2 separate regions of the Homo sapiens genome follow, and region 1 is linked to region 2. The links come from fine-mapping of genetic effects on gene expression. A gene starts in region 2. The other region holds a variant in brackets. All regions are shown on one strand. Distances are between the middles of the regions. Region 1 overlaps CFAP92 (cilia and flagella associated protein 92 (putative)). Region 2 holds the start of CFAP92 (cilia and flagella associated protein 92 (putative)).

Region 1 (10,728 bases), 35 kb after region 2:
GTCCTGCCAGCAAAGATTATTTATTTACTTCAAGAGTTTAGAGTGGCAGTTTGGGGATAGCACCAGGAGATATCAGCTGTGATGGCTTGGAGAAACAGTGTAAACCGGCAGTGTAAACAAGAGCAGGGCACGTATGAGTAGTTGAGAACGGTGAATAGGAGTATGACTAGACAAAAGATAGTAGGGATGACAAGTTTTTTGGGGGCACAGTCTCAGTTGGTCTGGTGTCAAATGAGACTGGGGCCTAATAAAAAGGAGCATCTACACAGGAGCTTAAATGGGCTGTACCTTGTAGAAGCGAAAGTGGTAAAAGTATTGTCCAGTCCTTTTTAAGTTGGTGGCTGAGCTTGGTGAGCTGTGTTTTTAAAAGACCTTTAGTCCGTTCTACTTTTCTTGAAGACGGAGGACCGTAAGGGATATAAAGGTTTCACTGAAACCTACTAAGAGCCTGAAAAACTGCTTGGCTGATTTGACTAATAAAGGCTGGTCTATTATCAGACTGTATAGAGGTGGGAAGGCTAAACTGAGGAATTATGTCTGACAGAAGGGAAGAAATGACTGCGGTGGCCTTCTCAGACCCTGTAGGAAAGGCCTTTACTTATTCAGTGAAAGTGTCTATTTGAACTAAGAGGTATTTTAGTTTCCTGACTCGGGCATGTTGAGTAAAGCTAATTTGCCAGTCCTGGGTGGGGGCAAATCCTCGAGCTTGATGTGTAGGGAAGGGAGGGGGCCTGAATAATCCCTGAGGAGTAGTAGAATAGCAGATGGAACACTGAGAAGTTATTTCCTTGAGGATAGATTTCCAGGATGGAAAGGAAATGAGAGGTTCTGAGAGGCGGGCTAGTGGCTTGTACTATAGCATAGCCTGCCTTTGCTGGTGTGTGGCGATTAGGCCTGGTGGAACTGCCGTCAATAAATCAAGCGTGATCAGGGTGAGGAACAGGAAAGAAGGAAATATGGGGAAATGGGGTGAATATCAGGTGGATCAGAGAGATACAGTCATGGGGGTCAGGTGTGGTATCAGGAATAATGTGGGAGGCCAGATTGAAGTCCGGGCCAGGAACGATGGTAATTGTGAGACTTAAAGAGTGAGTACAGCTGAAGGAGCCGGGGAGCAGAAAGTATATGCGTCAGGTATGAGGAAGAAAATAGATTTTGGGAAATGTAGAGAGTGAGTTGAGCATAGTTTGTGACTTTTAGGGCCTCTAACAGTATTAAAGCAGCGGCAGCCGCTGCACGCAGACATGAGGGCTAGGCTAAAACAGTAAGGTCAAGTTGTTTGGACAGAAAGGCTACACGGTGTGGTCCTGGCTCTTGTTTAAGAATTCTGACCGCACTAAGCATGCCTAGGAAGGAAAGGAGTTGTTCTTTTGTAAGGGATTGAGGTTTGGGAGATTAATCAGACACGATCAGCAGGGAGAGCACATGTGTTTTTATGAGAATTATGCCAAGATAGGTAACAGATGAGGACGAAATTTGGGCTTGACTGAAGTAATGGGGGCTGTCTGTGAAGCCTTGCGGCAGTACAGCCCAGGTAATTTGCTGAGCCTAATGGGTGTCAGGGTCAGTCTAAGTGAAGGCAAAGAGAGGCTGGGATGACGGGTGCAAAGGAATAGTAAAGAAAGCATGTTTGAGATCCAGAACAGAATAATGGGTAGTAGAGGAAGGTATTGAGGATAGGAGAGTATATGGGTTTGGCACCACGGGGTGGATAGGCAAAACAATTTGGTTGATAAGGCGCAGATTCTGAACTAACTTGTAAGCCTTGTCTGGTTTTAGGACAGGTAAAATGGGGGAATGGTAAGGAGAGTTTATAGGTTTTAGAAGCCCGTGCTGTAGCAGGCGAGTGATCACAGGCTTTAATCCTTTTAAATCGTGCTGTGGGATAGGATATTGGCATTGAGCGGGGTAAGGATGATTAGGTTTTAATGAGATGGTAAGGGGTGCGTGATCAGTTGCCAAGGAGGGAGTAGAGGTCTCTTATACTTGTGGGTTAAGGTGGGGGAATACAAGAGGAGGACGCAAAGGAGGCTTTGGATTGGGAAGAAGGGCAGCAATGAGATGCAGCTGTAGTCCAGGAATAGTCAGGGAAGCAGATAATTTGGTTAAAATATCTCGGTCTAATAAGGGAACTGGGCAGGTGGGGATAACTAAAAAAGAGTGCATAAAAGAGTATTGTCTAAGTTGGCACCAGAGTTGGGGAGTTTTAAGAGGTTTAGAAGCCTGTCTGTCAATACCCACAACAGTTATGGAGGCAAGGGAAACAGGCCCTTGAAAAGAAGGTAATGTGGAGTGGGTAGCCTCCGTATTGCTTAAGAAGGGGACGGGCTTACCTTCCGCTGTGAGAGTTACCGGAAGCTCGGCGTCCGTGATGGTCTATGGGGCTTCCGAGGCGATCGGGCAGCATCAGTCTTCAGCCGCTAAGCCGAGAAGGAGTCAGTCAGAGAGCCTCGGGCCAGAGTTCCAGGGGCTCTGGGAGTGGCTGCCAGGTGAGTTGAACAGTCCAATTTCCAGTGGGGTCCCGCACAGATGGGACACGGCTTAGGAGGAATCCTGGGCTGCGGGCATTCCTTGGCCTGGTGGTCAGATTTCTGGCACTTGTAGCAAGCTCCTGGGGGAGGAGGTTCTGGAGGAACACCTGGCCACTGCGGTTCAGGCGTTTGGAAGTTCTTGTGTGCTGGAGATGTGGCTGGGATTTGTCTCACAGTGGAGGCAAGGAATTGCAACTTTTTCCTATTATTGTACACCTTGAAGGAGAGGTTAATTCAATCCTGTTGTGGGGTTTGAGGGCCGGAATTTAATTTTTGGAGTTTTATTTAATGTCGGGAGCAGATTGGGTAATAAAATGTATATTGAGAATAAGACAGCCTTTTGACCTTTTAGGGTCTAGGGCTGTAAAGCGTCTCAGGGTTGCTGCCATGAACTGGGTTGGGTTTTTATATTTGATGAAAAAGAGCCTAAACGCTATCTGATTTGGGATAAAGAAAAAGGAGCATTAACCTTGACTATGCCTTCAGCTCCAGCCACCTTTTTAAGAGTAAATTGCTGGGCAGGTGGGGGAGGGCTAGTCACGGAATGAAAACCATAAGCAGGACCAGGTGTGAGGAGGGGAGGTGATAAAAGGATTATAGGGTGGAGGAGCGGAGGCTGAGGAAGAATTGGGACCTAGCTCGGCCTGGTGAGGAGGGGAGAGGTCAGATGGGTCTGTAGAAAAGGAAGATTAGAAAGAGTCAGTGATGCTTGGGGTTGGGACTGAGGGGACAGGCGGGAGGGAAAGAAGGAAGATTTGGGAGGAGTTGCCCTGGGCACAGCGACTAGGAAGGGACTGATGTGTAAAAGAATGCCGGGACGTCAGGCACCTCAGACCGTTTGCCTATTTTACGACAAGAATTATTTAGATCTTGCAGGATGGAAAAATTTAAAGTGCCATTTTCTGGCTATTTGGAACTACTGTTGAGTTTGTATTGGGGTCAAGCGGCATTGCAGAAGAAAATAAGGCATTTAGGTTTTAGGTCAGGTGTGAGTTGAAGAGGTTTTAAGTTCTTGAGCACACAGGCTAAGGGAGAAGGAGGAGGAATGGAGGGTGGAAGGTTGCCCATAGTGAAGGAAGCAAACCCAGAGAAAAGAGAGCATAGAGACCCGGAGGGAAGGGGTTTGGGGGTTCTTGCCCCCTAGAAAAGCGGGACTTGCCGCTAAGGGTGAAGGAGAAGGGGTTGAGGGGTACTTGCCCCTGCCCCAGGAAAGTGGGACTTGCCGCTGAGGGTGAAGGAGAAGGGGTTGAGGGGTACTTGCCCCTGCCCCAGGAAAGCGGGACTTGCCGCTGAGGGTGAAGGAGAAGGGGTTCACGGGTACTTGCCCCTTCCCCAGAAAAGCGGGACTAGCCGCTAAGGGTGAAGGACCAAGGCAGGCGTCCCTGCGTGGTCTGACACCCTTGAAACGTGGGTGTATAATCAGAGAGCGTCCCTGCAATGATTAAACACCAAGGGAAGGCTGCCTTCCCAGTCCGTGACCGGCGCCGGAGTTTTGGGTCCACGGATAAAACGTGTCTCTTTTGTCTCTACCAGAAAATGAAAGGAATTGAAATTAAGGGAGAGATTGAAGTGTGGCACCAAGATTGAAAGGAGAAAGAGGTTGAGGGATAGTGAGGGAGGTTGGAGAAGAGAGTCAAAAGAGGCCGCTTACCGGATTTGAAATTGGTGAGATGTTTCTTGGGCTGGTCGGTCTGAGGACCTGAGGTCATAGAGGTGGATCTTTCTCACGGAGCAAAGAGCAGGAGGACGGGGGATTGATCTCCCAAGGGAGGTCCCCCGATCCGAGTCACGGCACCACATTTCATGCGCGTCCGTGTGAAGAGACCACCAAACAGGCTTTGTGTGAGCAACATGGCTGTTTATTTCACCTGGGTGCAGGCGGGCTGAGTCCGAAAAGAGAGTCAGCGAAGGGAGTGGGGCCGTTTTATAGGATTTGGGAAGGTAATGGAAAATTACAGTCAAAGGGGGTTGTTCTCTGGTGGGCAGGGGTGGATCTCACAAAATACATTCTCAAGAGTGGGGAGAATTACAAAGAACCTTCTTAAGGGTGGGGGAGACTACAAAGTACATTGATCAGTTAGGGTGGGGCGGGAACAAATCACAATGGTGGAATGTCATCAGTTAAGGCTGTTTTTATTTCTTTTGTGG[A/G]TCTTCAGTTACTTCAGGCCATCTGGATGTATACGTGCAAGTCACAGGGGATGTGATGGCCTGGCCTGGGCTCAGAGGCCTGACAGTTATCACCTGTATTTTACCATTTAGGATCCCACAGTGAGATACAAAAGAGATGGGGTTCCTGGGATTAGGTGTGACCAGTCCTGAGGTCTCCTACTATGCCGCAGGTGCTCTTCACATGCAGGTCATGAACCTCCCTTCAGGAGCCCCCAGGCTTCCCTCTTCCTGTGGCAGTTGCCAGCGGGATGCTCACTCATTGTGAACCAACCAGGTTCAGCACTGCTGTTTATTCTGTGAGTTCCTTGTTCCCTCTTCTGGTTGGATCCCTGTCTCCTGAATTCTCTCCCTTTATTTGCTGTCTGGTTTTGCTGGAGTGCATCCTCTAGTAGCTTCTCGAGAAAAGGTCAATGGGAGATTTATTTTTGAGATCTCATATGTCTGCAGATATATTTTTTTCTACCTTTTTTTATCCTTACACATGACTGGTAGTTTGGCTGCATATAGAATTCTAGGCTAAAAATCATTTGCCTTCAGAGTTTTGAAGGCATTGTTCCATCATCTTTTATTTTCATTGAAGTTGAACCTTTGTATGCGAACTGTTTTTTGTTTCTCCAAATGCTTATAAAATCCTTTTTGTCGTCTTTTTTATTTTATTTATTTATTTATTTGAGGCAGAATTTTGCTCTTGTTGCCCAGGCTGGAGTGCAGGGGTGCAATCTCAGCTCACCACAACCTCCACCTCCTGGGTTCAAGCGATTCTTCTGCCTCAGCCTCCCGAGTAGCTGGGATTACAGGCATTTGCCACCACGCCCGGCTAATTTTGTATTTTTAGTAGAGACAGGGTTTCTCCATGTTGGTCAATCTGGTCTCAAACTCCTGACCTCAGGTGATCCACCTGCCTTGGCCTCCCAAAGTGTTGGGATTACAGGTGTCAGCCACTGCGTCCAACCTTGTCTCCTTTTTTAAAAAAATTTTTTTGAGACAGGGTCTCACTCCACTGCCCTGTCTGGAGTGCAGTGGTGTGATCATAACTTACTGCAGCCTCAACCTCCTGGGCTCAGGTGATCCTCCTGCCTTAGCCTCCCTAGTAGCTGAGACTGCAGGCACACGCCACCACACCCAGCTAGTTTTTGTATTTTTTGTAGAGACAGGGTTTTGCCATGTTGCGCAGGCTGGTCCTGAACTCCTGGGATCAAGTGATCCTCCTGCCGTGGCCTCCCAAAGTGCTAGGATTATAGGTGTAAGCCACAGTGCCAGCCCTTTTTGTCTTCTGAAACTGCTTGTGTGTCTTAGTGTGAGTATGTCCATATACATATGTCATACTTTAAAATATAGATTCACGGAAAGTTGCAAAGACAGTACAGAGAGGTCCCATGTATCCTTTGTCCAATTTCCTCAGTAATTAGGTGTTTCATAACTATAGCACAATATCAAAATCAGCACATTGACATGAGTCTAATGTGTATATAGGTCTGTGCCATTTTATTGTACATGTATGTAACTGTCACAGCACTTGAGATGTAGAAATATTCTATCATCACAAAGATCTCCTTCGTGCTACCCTTTTATAGTCACAACAACCCCTAACACCCACCATCCCTAACCACTAATTTGCTATCTCTATACTTTTGTCAATTTGAAAATGTTATTGTTAAGGATTGAATTGTGTTCCTCCAAAAAATGGTATGTTGAACTCCTAACGCCCAGTATCTCAGAATGTGATCTTATTTGGAAAGAGGGTCTTTGCAGAGGTAGTCAAGTTGAAATGAGGTCATTAGGGTATCCTTATGAAAGGGGGAAAATTGGACCCAGAGACAGACACACGTAGAGGGAAGACTATGCAAAGTGACACACAGAGAACGCCACATGGAAAGTGGATGCTGCCACATGCCAGGGGACATCTGGGGCCACCAGAAGCTGGAAGAGGCAAGGAAGGACCTTCCTGAGCACCTTCTGAGGAAATGTGGCCCTGCCAACAGCTTAATTTCTGACTTCTAGCCTCAGAACAGGGAGACAATAAATTTCTGTCATTTTAAGCCCCCCCCCAGTTTATGGCGCTTCGTAGGAAACTGGTGTGGTTATATAAATGAAAACATCCAGCATGTGACCTTTTGAGACTGGCCTTCTCCCCCACTCCAGGATAATGGCCTTGCATGTAGTTTGGTCATGTTTCTTTATTTACTCTGCCTTTTAATTGACGTATTTAGACCATTATATTTAGAGTAAATGTTGATATATTAGAGCTTAAGTCTACCATTTTAATTTTTGTTTTCTGTCTGTTCCTTCTGTTTTTTTGTTTCTCTTGGTTTTTATTCCTGCTTTCTTGTGGGTTACTTGACCCATTTTTAGAATTCCATTTTGATTTATCTGTAGTATTTTTGAATTTATATCTCTTGGTATAGATTTTTAGTGGCACTCTGGATATTATATTTAACGCATAACATAACTTTTCGCAATCTCTTGGTATCAATATTTTACCAGTTTGAGTGAAATATAGAAACTTTACCTCCCTCCATACCCCTTTAGTTTCCCTAAATATTTCCTCTACATAGATTGATAACCACATGAGATGATGTTATACTTTTTGCTTCAACTGTCAAACATAACACATAACCTAGAAAACTCAAGGGTTGAAGGAAAGTGTATTTGTTTACCCGTGGTTCTACTTATTCCATTATCCTTTCTTCCTTTCTAATGTTCCAAGACTTCTTTTGTCATTTCCTTTCTGTTTCAAGAACTTCCTTTCGCCTTTCTTCTAGGATAAATCTGCTGAAAACAAATTCTTTTAGTTGTTCTTTGTCTCAGGGTGTTTTTATTTTTCCTTCATTCTGGAAGGATAGTCTTACTGGATATAGAATTGGTATAGAATGGGGTTGATTTCTTTTTTTTTTTTTTTTTTTTGAGAGAGTCTGGCTCTGTCACCCAGGCTGGAGTGTAGTGGCATGATGTTGGCTCACTGCAACGTCTGCCTCCTGGGTTCAAGTGATTCTCCTGCCTCAGCCTCCTGAGTAGCTGGGATTATGAGCATGCACCACCATGCCTGGCTAATTTTTGTATTTTTAGTAGAGACAGAATTTCACCATGTTAGCCAGGCTAGTGTCAAACTCCTGACCTCAGGTGATGCACGCACCTCGGCCTCCCAAAGTGCTGGGGTTACAGGTGTGAGCCACTGTGCCTGGCTGGATTTTTTTTTTTAACACTTGAAAAATGTTATACCACTTTCTTCTTACCACTACAGTTTCTGATGGGAAATCTGCTGTCATTCAAATTACTTTTTTTTCCCTATAAGTAAGGTGGCATTTATCTCTTGCAGCTTTCAAGATTTTCTTTCTTTGTCATTAATTTACAGAAGTTTGACTATGACATGTCTTGGTGTGGATTTCTTTGTGTTTATCTTATTTGGGGTTCTCTCAGCTCTTTGAATCTATAGGCTTATGTATTTTGCCAAATTTGAGAAAATTTTAGCCATTATTTATTGGAATACTTTTCAGCACCACCTTTTTTCTCCTCTCCTTCTGAAACTCCAATGACATGAATATTAGTTCTTTTGTTTTAGTCCCACAGGGCCCTGAAGTTCTGATTTTGATTTTTGTGTCTTTTTTCCCCTGTGTTGTTCAGATTGGGTAATTTCTTTTTTTCTTTCTATTTTCTTTTTTTTTTTTTATTTTTTTATTTTTTTTTTATTTTTTTTTTTAATTTATTTTTTTATTGATAATTCTTGGGTGTTTCTCACAGAGGGGGATTTGGCAGGGTCATGGGACAATAGTGGAGGGAAGGTCAGCAGATAAACAAGTGAACAAAGGTCTCTGGTTTTCCTAGGCAGAGGACCCTGCGGCCTTCCGCAGTGTTTGTGTCCCTGATTACTTGAGATTAGGGATTGGTGATGACTCTTAACGAGCATGCTGCCTTCAAGCATCTGTTTAACAAAGCACATCTTGCACCGCCCTTAATCCATTTAACCCTGAGTGGACACAGCACATGTTTCAGAGAGCACAGGGTTGGGGGTAAGGTCACAGATCAACAGGATCCCAAGGCAGAGGAATTTTTCTTAGTGCAGAACAAAATGAAAAGTCTCCCATGTCTACTTCTTTCTACACAGACACGGCAACCATCCGATTTCTCAATCTTTTCCCCACCTTTCCCGCCTTTCTATTCCACAAAGCCGCCATTGTCATCCTGGCCCGTTCTCAATGAGCTGTTGGGCACACCTCCCAGACGGGGTGGTGGCTGGGCAGAGGGGCTCCTCACTTCCCAGTAGGGGCGGCCGGGCAGAGGCGCCCCTCACCTCCTGGGCGGGGCGGCTGGCCGGGCGGGGGGCTGACCCCCCCACCTCCCTCCCGGATGGGGCGGCTGGCCGGTCGGGGGGCTGACCCCCCCACCTCCCTCCCGGACGGGGCGGCTGGCCAGGCAGAGGGGCTCCTCACTTCCCAGTAGGGGCGGCCGGGCAGAGGCGCCCCTCACCTCCCGGACGGGGCGGCTGGCCGGGCAGGGGGGCTGACCCCCCCCCACCTCCCTCCCGGACGGGGCGGCTGGCCGGGCGGGGGGGCTGACCCCCCCACCTCCCTCGCGGACGGGGCAGCTGGCCGGGCAGAGGGGCTCCTCACTTCCCAGTAGGGGCGGCCGGGCAGAGGCGCCCCTCACCTCCCGGACGGGGCGGCTGGCCGGGCAGGGGGGCTGACCCCCCCCACCTCCCTCCCGGACGGGGCGGCTGGCCGGGCAGGGGGGCTGACCCCCCCCACCTCCCTCCCGGACGGGGCGGCTGGCCGGGCGGGGGGCTGACCCCCCCACCTCCCTCGCGGACGGGGCGGCTGGCCGGGCAGAGGGGCTCCTCACTTCCCAGTAGGGGTGGCCGGGCAGAGGCGCCCCTCACCTCCCGGACGGGGCGGCTGGCCGGGCAGGGGGGCTGACCGCCCCACCTCCCTCCCGGACGGGGCGGCTGGCCGGGCGGGGGGCCGACACCCCCACCTCCCTCCCGGACGGGGCGGCTGGCCGGGCGGGGGGCCGACCCCCCCACCTCCCTCCCGGACGGGGCGGCTGGCCGGGCAGAGGGGCTCCTCTCTTCCCAGTAGGGGCGGCCGGGCAGAGGCGCCCCTCACCTCCCAGACGGGGCGGCTGGCCGGGCGGAGGGCTGACCCCCCCACCTCCCTCCCGGACGGGGCGGCTGGCCGGGCAGAGGGGCTCCTCACTTCCCAGTAGGGGCGGCCGGGCAGAGGCGCCCCTCACCTCCCGGACCGGGCGGCTGGCCGGGCGGGGGGCTGACCCCCCCACCTCCCTCCCGGATGGCACGGCTGGCCGGGCGGGGGGCTGACCCCCCACCTCCCTCCCGGATGGGGCGGCTGGCCGGGCGGGGGGCTGACCCCCCCTCACCTCCCTCCCGGACAGGGTGGCTGCCGGGCGGAGATGCTCCTCACTTCCCAGATGGGGTGGCTGCTGGGCGGAGAGGCTCCTCACTTCTCAGACGGGGCAGCTGCCGGGCGGAGGGGCTCCTCACTTCTCAGACGGGGTGGTTGCCAGGCAGAGGGTCTCCTCACTTCTCAGACGGGGCGGCCGGGCAGAGACGCTCCTCACCTCCCAGACGGGGTCTCGGCCGGGCAGAGGCGCTCCTCACATCCCAGATGGGGCGGTGGGGCAGAGGCGCTCCCCACATCTCAGACGATGGGCGGCCGGGCAGAGACGCTCCTCACTTCCTAGATGTGATGGCGGCTGGGAAGAGGCGCTCCTCACTTCCTAGATGGGATGGCGGCCGGGCGGAGACGCTCCTCACTTCCCAGACTGGGCGGCCGGGCAGAGGGGCTCCTCACATCCCAGACGATGGGCGGCCAGGCAGAGACACTCCTCACTTCCCAGACGGGGTGGCGGCCGGGCAGAGGCTGCAATCTCGGCACTTTGGGAGGCCAAGGCAGGCGGCTGGGAGGTGGAGGTTGTAGTGAGCCGAGATCACGCCACTGCACTCCAGCCTGGGCACCATTGAGCACTGAGTGAACGAGACTCCGTCTGCAATCCCGGCACCTCGGGAGGCCGAGGG
Region 2 (10,728 bases):
CCCTGCAGCTGGTGAAGGAATCCTTTGAACAGTAGCTTTCCTGGGCCAGTCAATATTGAAAAGAAAGCTTTTAAATGTCTTGCTGGGAGCCGTTGCCGGCCTCCACTCCCCTACAGCTCAGGGAAGTAAGGGTTGATAATGGTTTGCTGTCAGGCCTGTCTGTCTGCCCTGCGGTGTTACCAGGCACCTCTGAAATAATTCTGGTTGCATCCACAAGGTTTTTGTTTAAGGTTCAAAGTGAGCAAACTCAGAGGTCTCCTTGCGTTCTTTTGTATGAGCTGGGGGGATGGGCGTGTGTCTGTGTGGGAGAGAGTCAGGGCTGTGGCAAAGAAATGATTTTCTGAAGTCAGTTCAGTATTGTTTGAGCCATTTCAAATAGTATATTGTTTAAAGTGTCTTTTAAAGGTCCGGGAAAATGCTAAAAAGCAAAAATCATCCACCATTCTGCCACCAAGAGAGGATCACTGTGTATTTCTGATGTATTTATTTCCAGACTTTTCTATGTATTTGGGCATGAAAGAACTTTTTGGAGTGATTGAAATACTCTATCTTCATGGTGTAGTGGTTGCATGACTGTGTACATCTGAATTTTACAGTGTGCAAATCGTAGCTCATTCAACTTGACATGAAAAGCACAGTGGAAAGGGCGCCATTGGGATCTTTCTTTGCACAGGAACTGAGCTTTGTAAACAGCTTGGCTGTGGTTTCTTTGCAGACACTGCTCCAGAGGCTGCTCTGTGCTCCCTGGGGATGAACTATAAGGTGCTTTGTCATCCCCCACAGATGCCCACTGAGGTGGTTTTCAGCTTTTCTCCGCAAAAACCATACTGTGAACAGTTTGTGCCATATCTTGAGTGATTTATTACTGGGCCAAGGAGTATACATATTTTATAAGCTTGTGGTATTATCAGCCTGTTTTTTGGAAACTTGTGTTGTTCTATCCAGAGCCCAGAACTGTCTGGGAATGTCCTTGGGCCATTATTTTCAGTGTCATAAAGCTTTTGGGTTTTTAGGGGTCTTGGTTAGTAGATTTGCTTAGTGTTCAGACACCAAGCTTTACTTCTATTAAAAATAGGCCTGTTGTTAGTCAAAGATTTCTTAGATACGACACCAAATGCATGATCCAAAAAAGAAAAAAATGATGAATCGGACCTTCATCAAAGTTCAAAACATTTGCACTTCAAAAGACACTATTAAGAAAATATGACGAACAAGAGACTAGGAGAAAATATTTGTAAAACATATGCCCAGTAAAGGACTTATATTCCGAATTTACAATGAACTCTTAACAACTCAGTAACAAGAAGACAAACAATCCAATCAAAAAGTGGGTGAAGATACAAACAGACATTTCACCAAAGAAGTTGTATAAATAGCCAACATGTGCATAAAACAATCTCAGTATTCTTGTTAGGGAAATGCACATGAAAACTATGATGAAATACTATATTATACTCATGAGAATAGCTGTAGTGAATAAAACAGGCAATAAATCTTGTCAAGAATTTGGAGAAACAGGAAACTTCATGTTGTTGATGGGAACACAAAATGATGCAGCCCCTGTGGAAGATAGTTTGGCAGTTTCTCAAGAAGTTAATCACAAAATGACCATACGACCCAACTCTTCCACTCCTAGATATCGACCCAAGAGAGATGAAAACACATCCACACAAAGACTTGTGTGGGAATGTTCATAGCAACGTTGTTCATAAATGTCTAAATGCCCAAGCCAAATGCCCATTAACTGATGAATGGATAGGCAAACTGTGGTCTGTCCATACAATAGAATATTATTCAGTCATGAAAAGGAATGAAATACTGACACATGCCTCAACATAAATAAACCTTGGAAACATAACGGTAGGTGAAAGAAACCAGTCACAAAGCCAGAACACAGTGTCTGACTCAATTTATAGGAAATGTCTAGAAAAGGCCAATTTTTAGAAACAAAGTAGATATGGTTGCCTAGGACTGGGAGTTGGAACAGAGATTAATTATAAATGTGCATGAAGTCTTATTAGGGGGATGAAAATGTTCTAAAATGAATTTATGATGATGATTACAGCACTAGGTAAAGTTACTGAAAATCATTGAATTCTACGCTTGAAATGGATGGATTTTATTAAATAAAAAATACTTCAATAAAGCTGTTAAAAATGGGGAAGGGGCAAGAAGAAGGTGTATGTAGCTGATTCCCAATATGCTTCCAGCTGCCAGAGTCTTGGGATAGCTTCAGGAAGGCCTCTACATAGCCTGTGGGAGCTTGGGAACCCTCCACCCGGCAGAGTAAGGATGAAGGGATGGATTGTTCAGTGACCTTGAACACCTCCTGCCCCTGGATGCTTGTCCCTCTGCTTACCAGATGTACAGTCCATGTCTTCATCCCCTTGAAGTGGGGCCAGCCTCATGACTTGCTTTGGTTAATGGCATGTAGCAGAGTGACATGGTGCTGGTTCCACGCCTAGGTCCCAAGAGGCCTTGCAACTTCTTCTTTGCCCTCTGGGATCCCTGCTCTGAGAATGCCATCTGAGGAAGCCAGGCCGGGCTATGAGGAGATGAGGCACCACATAGAAGGAAGCTGGTGTACCACTGGGGGCGGGGGAACCCATGGAGGGGAACCAGCGGGCCCACGAAGAGCCAGCAGCAACTGCCAGACATGCAAGTGAGGACTTCTGGCAGCTTCCAGCCATGTTGGTCCTCCAGCTGAGCACAGCATAGGGAGTGAGCCCAGGCGAGGCCAGCAGAGAACTACTCAGCTGATGCATGGAGTGGTGAGAAATAACAAGTGTTTGTTTGACACCATTAAGTTTGGGGATGGTTTTTACTCAGTAACAGATAACTGAAACAGAAGCCCCCCTTCCTTTGCTTCTGATCTGCCAGCCCTGAAGCCATCTTCACTGAGGTAGGGTTGTAGACCCACCACTGTCTCATACCTGAGTAGTGGGTAGCACACCTTTGCCCTCACTTCATCCTGTGATGCCCTAGGTCTTGACCCAGACACCATCTCTCTCAGGGCAGTGGTTCCATATTCTGGTTGTGCAATACAATCTTGGTGGTAATTTAAAAATATGGCTCCCGTTCCTATTATTTATTGCACAACAAATCACCCCAAAACTTAGTGGTTTAAGAGAGCAACAATTTGCTTATAAATCTACAATTTCTCATGATGGAGACAGCTTGTTTCTGTTCCTCAATGTCAGCCAGGGTGGCTCAAAGACTGAGGGCTGGGATCATTTGAAGTCTTGCACTCTCATATGTCTGGGGGTTGAGGCTGCAATTGGCTGGGAACCGTCAGTCACAACAGTTTCATGTGGCCATTTCACATGGCTGCTTGGGCTTCCTCACAACATGCTAGCTGGATTCCTAGCATGAATACTATACCTCAAAAGAACAGGGCAGAGGTAGATGGAATTTATATGACCTGGCCTCAGAAATCACATAGTGTCATTTCCTCTGCACTCTTTTGACTGAGCCAGTCACAGAGGTCTGCCCAGTTTCCAGAGAAGGAGACTAGACCCCCCAACTGGGTGGGAGGAATGTGAACCTCACAATGCCTGCCGGAAGATTATGTGGGAGGGGATCTTTTGAGGTGGCTGTCTTTGGAAAATACAATCTGCCACTGGTTTCTAAGCTCCACCCCTGGAGAGTCACTTCCACAGGTCTTTAATGAAGCCTCAGAATTGTATTTTTGACATGTAGGTGTTTCCAGTGCACATCCAGGATGGCACATTGGCCCTTGGTCCAAGACCTCTGGCCTCTCACTATTGAGCTTGGGAAGAGATTGGCTTCTGTCCTAGGTGGTGATGTGATCTAGGAACCTTTGGAGGGAAACCAGCCTCAGGCCAGTGGGTAGGACCTGGGGAGCAGGAGGCCTGATGTCTGTCCAAGAGTGGTGGTAGTGTTGAACTGCCCTTGTTAAAGGGCCCTTTTGGGGGCTGGTGTATCTGAGTAGCTTTGTATTCTTCCAGCCCTTCATGTGTCTCCTGAGCACTTCCTGGCATACAGACAGCAGTCTCCAGGCTGCTGCAGGTGGGGTGTGGGCAAGGTGGTTGCCGTTCTCGTGCTAAGAGTTTGAACCCACTCCTCACAGGGCCCACTGCCATTTGGTGTCTTCCCTAACAGCTGTACTTGAGGCTGTTTTTCAGACTGAACCCGAGGAGTATTGGAGCACCCAGTATTAAAGGGGCTGTCCCATGCCCTGAGAGCGGTCTGGGGAGGCATGCACTGGGAGGCTCAGGACTTGGGTCTCAGCCCCAGCTGCGCCACAGTTTTGCTCTTTGACACAAAGTAGGTCATAGCTCAACTCAGCTAAAGTTTTCTTAATAGCCAAGCTTGTGTGTAGCCTCAGCTCCCATTCTCTTGAACAAACTGACTGCCGGAGCAGGGTGCCCTCCCTCAACAGAAGACCTGCCTTGGCTCCCCATTGCCCATAGTCCTGTGCCCTAACCTGCCCTGTGGGGCTATGTACCATGGGCCCTGCACACTGCTACAGCCTCGCCACCCATTCCTGAAACTTGCCATGCCCTTTCACCTCTATGGGCCTTTGCATATGCTGTTCCTCTACCTGGGATGCTTTCTCTTGCTTTCACCGCCTCTGCCTAGTCACCCCCCAGATTTGGCGTTGCTCACTTCCTCCATGAGGCCTACCCCAGCCCTCTGTCCCAGCCGCTTGCTGTGCTGAGGTCCTCTACATTAGGAGCCGCAGCCAGGGCTCTCAGCTTGGGTGGTTTAGCAGACGAGCGGAGGCTTTGGAGTCAGGCAGTCCGGATTTCAACACAGTGCTGCGCCCTACTTGCTGTGTGACCTCGGGCGAATCGCTTCACCTCTCTAAGCTTTGTTTTCTGATCTCTGAGTTGGCGCTCATGATCACTAACAAGAATTCTCATGCTATTTTAAGGACATCAGCGACAGAAGCAGAGAATCTAATGAGAGGGATCGTGGGGAGGTCTGGTTTTTAAGGACATCGGCGACAGAAGCAGAGAATCTAATGAGAGGGATCGTGGGGAGGTCTGGAGTTTGCAGAGCCCACAGCTTCCTTTGCTTTTATTAAAGAATGGGAGGTGGGAGCTGATGGAGGGGGAGGAAGGAGCCATCAACCCCTACCTCCCATCGTACGGGCAAGGACCAGGCTTATAGTAGGTGCTGACGTTCCGAGTAGAAACTCCTTAATGAGTGAATGCATGAGTGAAGGAATGAAGGCAGCTGGTTTCTGAACCTGGATGTAGCCATTTGACAAACTGCGCGCAGTGGCTGAGGGGGAAAGCCCCGCCCCGCGGAGCCCCGCCCCCAGGCCGCACGCCCTCGCGTCTCCTAGCAACCGCCAAACGTAGCTGAGTGGCTGGGCCTGCGGCCCTCCCTGCACCGGCGGACGCTCCTCTCAGTCTTGGAGTCTCTTCGCCCAGGTGGCTGTGGATCCGGTACGGGAGTTGCCGCCGCGGTCCAACTCCCCGCTGCCGCCCAGCGCATCCGCTCGCAGGTACCGCCAGCACCTGGAGGGGAACCCCGACCCCTGCCCCCACCTCGGCCGCCGCAGCCCGGGACTCTTCCCGCCTCGCCTCGATGCGTGTTCCCTCTTCGGCGTTTGCCCGGCGTTCCGCCTCCATGGGCCTGAGCTGATGCCCCGAGCCCAGCACCCAGTGCACATTCATGTTCTGTCTTGGGGACAGGGCTTGCCCTCCCCGACCTCGCCAGGCTCCTGCACGTGCTGCCCCCGGCCTGGTTTGCCTCTCCCCAAATAGCAAACGCATCTTGTGCTTAGGCGCAGCAGGCCTGCCTGAGCAGACGTCCCCTCTCCCGCCTGGTGGCTCCCGGGAGCTGCTCACCTGGGGCAGGCATTCCAGAAGCCCGGCGACTGACTCCTGGTTAGGCGAAGGAAACGGGGTTGCTCGTCGTCGTGCTTACTGCCAGCCACCCTTATCTGTTGTTCCTTCATCCATTCATTCTCTAAGTCGATTGAGTACCGACTGTGTGGCAGGCAGTGAAGGAGCCCCGGCGTTCATCTAGGAGCAGGCGGGGGAAGCAGGGAAGAGAAGGGTGGGTGCTTCTGCAGGAGGCCGGGCTTACCTCCTGGAGCAGCCCTGGAATACAGGCGGGGACAGCCTTCACTTTCTCCCTGCCAGGAGCGCCGGCGGCCAGCAGTGCGCTCTGCAGCATGTCGCTACATGCCTGGGAGTGGGAAGAGGACCCCGCAAGCATAGAGCCCATCTCCTCCATCACTAGCTTTTACCAGTCCACGAGCGAGTGTGACGTGGAGGAACACCTGAAGGCCAAGGCCAGGGCCCAGGAGTCTGACTCTGACCGCCCGTGCAGCAGCATCGAGTCCTCATCTGAGCCTGCCAGCACTTTCAGCTCCGACGTGCCCCACGTGGTCCCCTGCAAATTCACCATCTCACTGGCCTTCCCTGTGAATATGGGTAGGTGCTAGAGCAGAAGTTTAACACCCTCTGAAAAAAGGAGGTGCATGACTTTCTGCAGGAGTTTAGGGCGCATACACCCCACATCCTCTCTCCACCTGCCCCACCCCAAAGCGGGCTGGCCAGTGCCAGCCAGGAGCAGAGGTTGAAAAGAAACAGCAATTTTAGGAGAGGCCCAACTGTGGCTGCATCAGCTTCACATACTTAATCCTCTCAACAACCCTAAAGCAGGTGATGTTCTGTCTGCTTTTTACAGAAGAAAAAAAAACCATGGAGAGGTTAAGGCATTGATTCTCATAAGCGCTTGTGCATCACCTAATACCTTGTTTAAAATACATTTTCCGGGAGTCTGAGGCAGGAGAGTCTCTTGAACCCCGGAGGTGGAGGTTGTGGTGAGCAGAGATCACGCCATTGCACTCCAGCCTGGGCAACAAGAGCAAAACTCTGTCAAAAAAAAAAAAAATAATAATTCTTTTTTTATTGAGATGGAGTCTTGCTCTGTCACCAGGCTGGAGTGCAGTGGTGCGATCTCAGCTCACTGCAACCTCAGCCTTCCGGGTTCAAGCAATTCTCGTGCCTCAGCCTCCCAAGTAGCTGGGATTACAGGTGCACGCCACCACACCCATCTAATTTTTGTATTTTTAGTAGAGACTGGGTTTCACCATGTTGGCCAGAATGGTCTCGAACCCCTGACCTCAGGTCATCCTCCTGCCTCAGCCTCCCAAAGTGCTGGGATTACAGGCATGAGCCACCGCACCCGGCCAAAAAATACATTTTCTCTGATCTGTTGAATCAATCTCTGAATGTAAAGGTGTATCAATTAGCTATTGCCACAAAAATGCGGTGCAACAAACCCAAACAAGCCCCCAAGCTCATGGCTGCACACAGGAACCTGAGGTTCTCCTGGAGGTGCTGGGCGCTGGTCTAGGCTGGGTTCTGCAACAGCTCAGCTCTGCTTCATGCTGCTCCTTTTCCTCCTGGACCAGTGGGCTATCCTAGACCCCTTCTTGTTCTAGAAACACGGACACACAGGAGGGCAAGCCTAGCCCCACAAACACTCCTCAAGTCTTTGAGTGTCTCCCACCTGCTAGCATTTTATTGGCCAAACCAAGTCACATGGTTCCAGCCCAATATGAGGGGAGGAGACAAGTAGTACTTCACATCTTGATAGACCTTGCTTTGTTTTGTTTTCATCTGCTTACTTGAACTAGCCCACCATTATGATTTCAACTTCTCCTGGTATTCTGTCGATGGTGTAAGTTTCTTGTATGGGTTGGAACCCCGAGAGCGCACCAACAGACAACACGAGGCGGTGTGGAGCAACATGCTGTTTCAATGAACGCCTTGGTGCAGGCCGGCTGAGGCCTAAAATGGCGTCAGCCCCAAGTGAGGACGGGGCAAAGGTTTTATAGTCTCCTGTAAACAGGAAGTGTCCTAGTCTGGCGTAACTGCTACGCTGTACCCGGATGGCCTCTTTCTCATCTTCATGTCTTCCGGCCAGGGTAGGTGTATTCCAGCCGGCTCTCCTCCTGCTTCTGCTATTTTGCTGGTGCACGCTGCTGACGTAAGTGACCTTACGCCTTGGGACTAGGCTTGAGAAGGGAGGAGTTATTCATCTCCTTAAGCTTTCAGGCCCTGGGGAGAGTCTTACAGATGGTTGCTTCAGCTATTTTGGAGGCCGACTGGTTGGGTGTATAGTATGTTTAGAACTGCTCCATCTTCTTGGTGAACTGAACTTTTTGTCATTTTATGGTGACCATTCCTGTCTAAAATGATGCCTTTACTCTTGGGTCTATTGCTATAAAGCAAAAGAGCCTGGAAAAAGACATCTGGCAAATACCAACCAAAAGAAAATTGGCACTTGACCTCCTTTAGCCCTCATCTCTTTCACAGCATCTTCTAAGCATGTTTTTGTTTTTGTTGTTGTTGTCCTCTAAAGGCATTTATAAAATGGATCTCTGTGGGGCAAAACTTCATGAGACCTTGTGTGCCTAAGAGTATTTTTTTATCATGCCAATACCTTTAAATGACATACCTTCGGCTCTACATAAAATTCTAGTTTAATTTTTTTTTCCTTCAATACCTGAGTATTTACAGATGAGTACATAAATGTTTCTTTATATAAATTATTTATTTATTTATTTTTGAGACGGAGTCTTGCTCTGTTGCCTAGACTGGAGTTCAGTGGCACAATCTCGGCTCACTGCAACCTCCACCTCCCAGGTTCAAGCAATTCTCCTGTCTCAGCTTCCCAAAGTAGCTGGGACCACAGGCACATGCCACCACGCCCAGCTAATTTTTGTATTTTTAGTAGAGATGGGGTTTCACCATATTGGTCAGGCCGGTCTTGAACTCCTGACCTTAGGTGATCCACCCGCCTTGGCTTTCCAAAACGCTGGAATTACAGACGTGAACCACCACGCCCGACCTATAAATTGTTTATTTCAGAGAAATGAGATCCTACAACTTACTTTAAAATGTTTTGACATGATTTAGATTATCTTTGAGAATATGATCAAGGATACTTGTTTTTGTTTGTTTGTTTTTAGACAGAGTCTCTCTCTGTCACCCAGGCTGGAGTACAGTGGCGCGATCTTGGCTCACTGCAACCTCCGCCTCCTGGGTTCAAGCGATTCTCCTGCCTCAGCCTCCCAAGCAGCTGGAACTACAGGCACATGCCACCATGCCCAGCTAATTTTTGTATTTTTAGTAGAGACGGGGTTTCGCCATGTTGGCCAGGCTGGTCTGGAACTCCTGACCTCAGATCATCCTCCTGCCTGGGCCTCCCAAAGTGCTAGGATTACAGGCATGAGCCACTTTGCCTGGGCAAGGATACTTGTTTTAATTTTGTTGTTTCATTTTAAACACCTATATATTAACAGTATTCCATTATATGTCTCTAATTTATCCTACCCCTTATTGGTGGATATTTGAGTTGTTTCAAATGTTTTTCTGTTGCAATTCTGCGATAGACATTCTTTACGTCCATTTTTGTGCATATATGTGGGCACTTCTGTTGCCTGTATTCCAAGAAGTAAATTTGCTGGATTGAAGGCATGTATTAATAGTTTTTGATAGATATTGTCAACTTCCCCTTTAAAAGGGCTAAATAACTTGCCTTTCTGTCTACAGAAAATGAGAGGCTCTGTTTGTCCACTTGCTGGCCCACCTGGGATTGAATCAGAAAAGGTCTAATGCTACCAGAGACTGGCAGGAGAAGCTTCACTCCAATCTCTGCACAAATGCTAACTATTTTGGTAGCAGAAAAATTAATGCTGCAGCAGTCTCCTGGGGTTAAAAATTTAGACTTTAAAAACTACAGCTTTAAAGACAGTCATGTTTTTATAGAATGATATTTGGATTAAATGTTTATGGAGCTTCTTATGATGTGAAAAGCCCCAACCTAGAGTGTGCAGTTTAAGCTGGAGTGTAAGCAACCAGGGGTGGGGTCAGGGGGCTCCTTGGGCTCTGGACTCTGGCAGAAGCCCATCTGTACCTTCCACATCCTGTCACCCTATCCACCCCGCATTGGGTAGCTTCACCCATGACATTTTTGTGAAGCTGCTTTCTCTGTCTGTCTGGAATATCTGCCAGCTTTGCTCCTCTAAGACTCTGCTAAGGTCCCCCTGGGAGGCCCACCCCACCCTCCCCATGCAGAGTTTTCTCCTCCACCTTCGTTCTTCACAACCTTGTTCCTGCTGCTATTATTGCACAAATCACATTGTACTGTGATTTTTTTTTTTTTTTTTTTTTACCTGCTTCTTAGGGCCAGGAGGGACCAGGGTAAGGCAAGTATGGCGTCTCTCCTAATAACATCTGGCCTGGCCATGTGATTTCACTTTAACTCTATCACCTTTTTAACCCTAGGCCTACTAACCAACACTCACTCTCCAACTGAGACACTCACTCTGAAAACCATGCACCTAAATTTTGCACTCAGGTGCCCAGTCCAGGTCGTGCTACTCTGCTGGCTAGGAGCACTGGACCTGTACCTCCTTCCCCAAGTCGGGCAGGCAATGTGGAGTGCTCAGCCTCTCACAACATCAAGCTCCAGGGAACTGGGGAGACGGGTCTGCTTTTCCACATGAGGTTAAAACGAGACTTTTTCAATCTGTATCTTCAAGGTCAGAAGGGAAAATATGCAAGTTTGATTGAAAAATATAAGAAACACCCTAAAACAGACAGTTCTGTTACAAAGATGCGTCGTTTTTACCACATTGAGTATTTCCTTCTGCCGGACGATGAAGAACCTAAAAAAGTTGACATATTGCTATTTCCAATGGTGGCCAAAGTATTCCTGGAGTCAGGAGTAAAG

The links.
Region 1: its variant is fine-mapped to the expression of CFAP92 in whole blood (INTERVAL, PIP above 0.99).

Annotation. Positions count from the first base shown.
Region 1 is chr3:128,953,854-128,964,581 of GRCh38, reverse strand. The region is part of intron 9 of CFAP92 (cilia and flagella associated protein 92 (putative)); the gene reads left to right. Among named protein-coding and RNA genes, the nearest start is that of CFAP92, 35 kb to the left of the region's middle. RefSeq lists an enhancer at 1-445. The variant A/G (reference allele first, on the strand shown) is at 4,680.
Region 2 is chr3:128,988,728-128,999,455 of GRCh38, reverse strand. CFAP92 (cilia and flagella associated protein 92 (putative)) reads left to right here and starts at 5,380. Exons shown (of 16, transcript NM_001394090.1): 1 at 5,380-5,476; 2 at 6,120-6,413; 3 at 10,538-10,728. The coding sequence starts at 6,152. RefSeq lists a silencer at 5,165-5,374 and an enhancer at 5,951-6,712.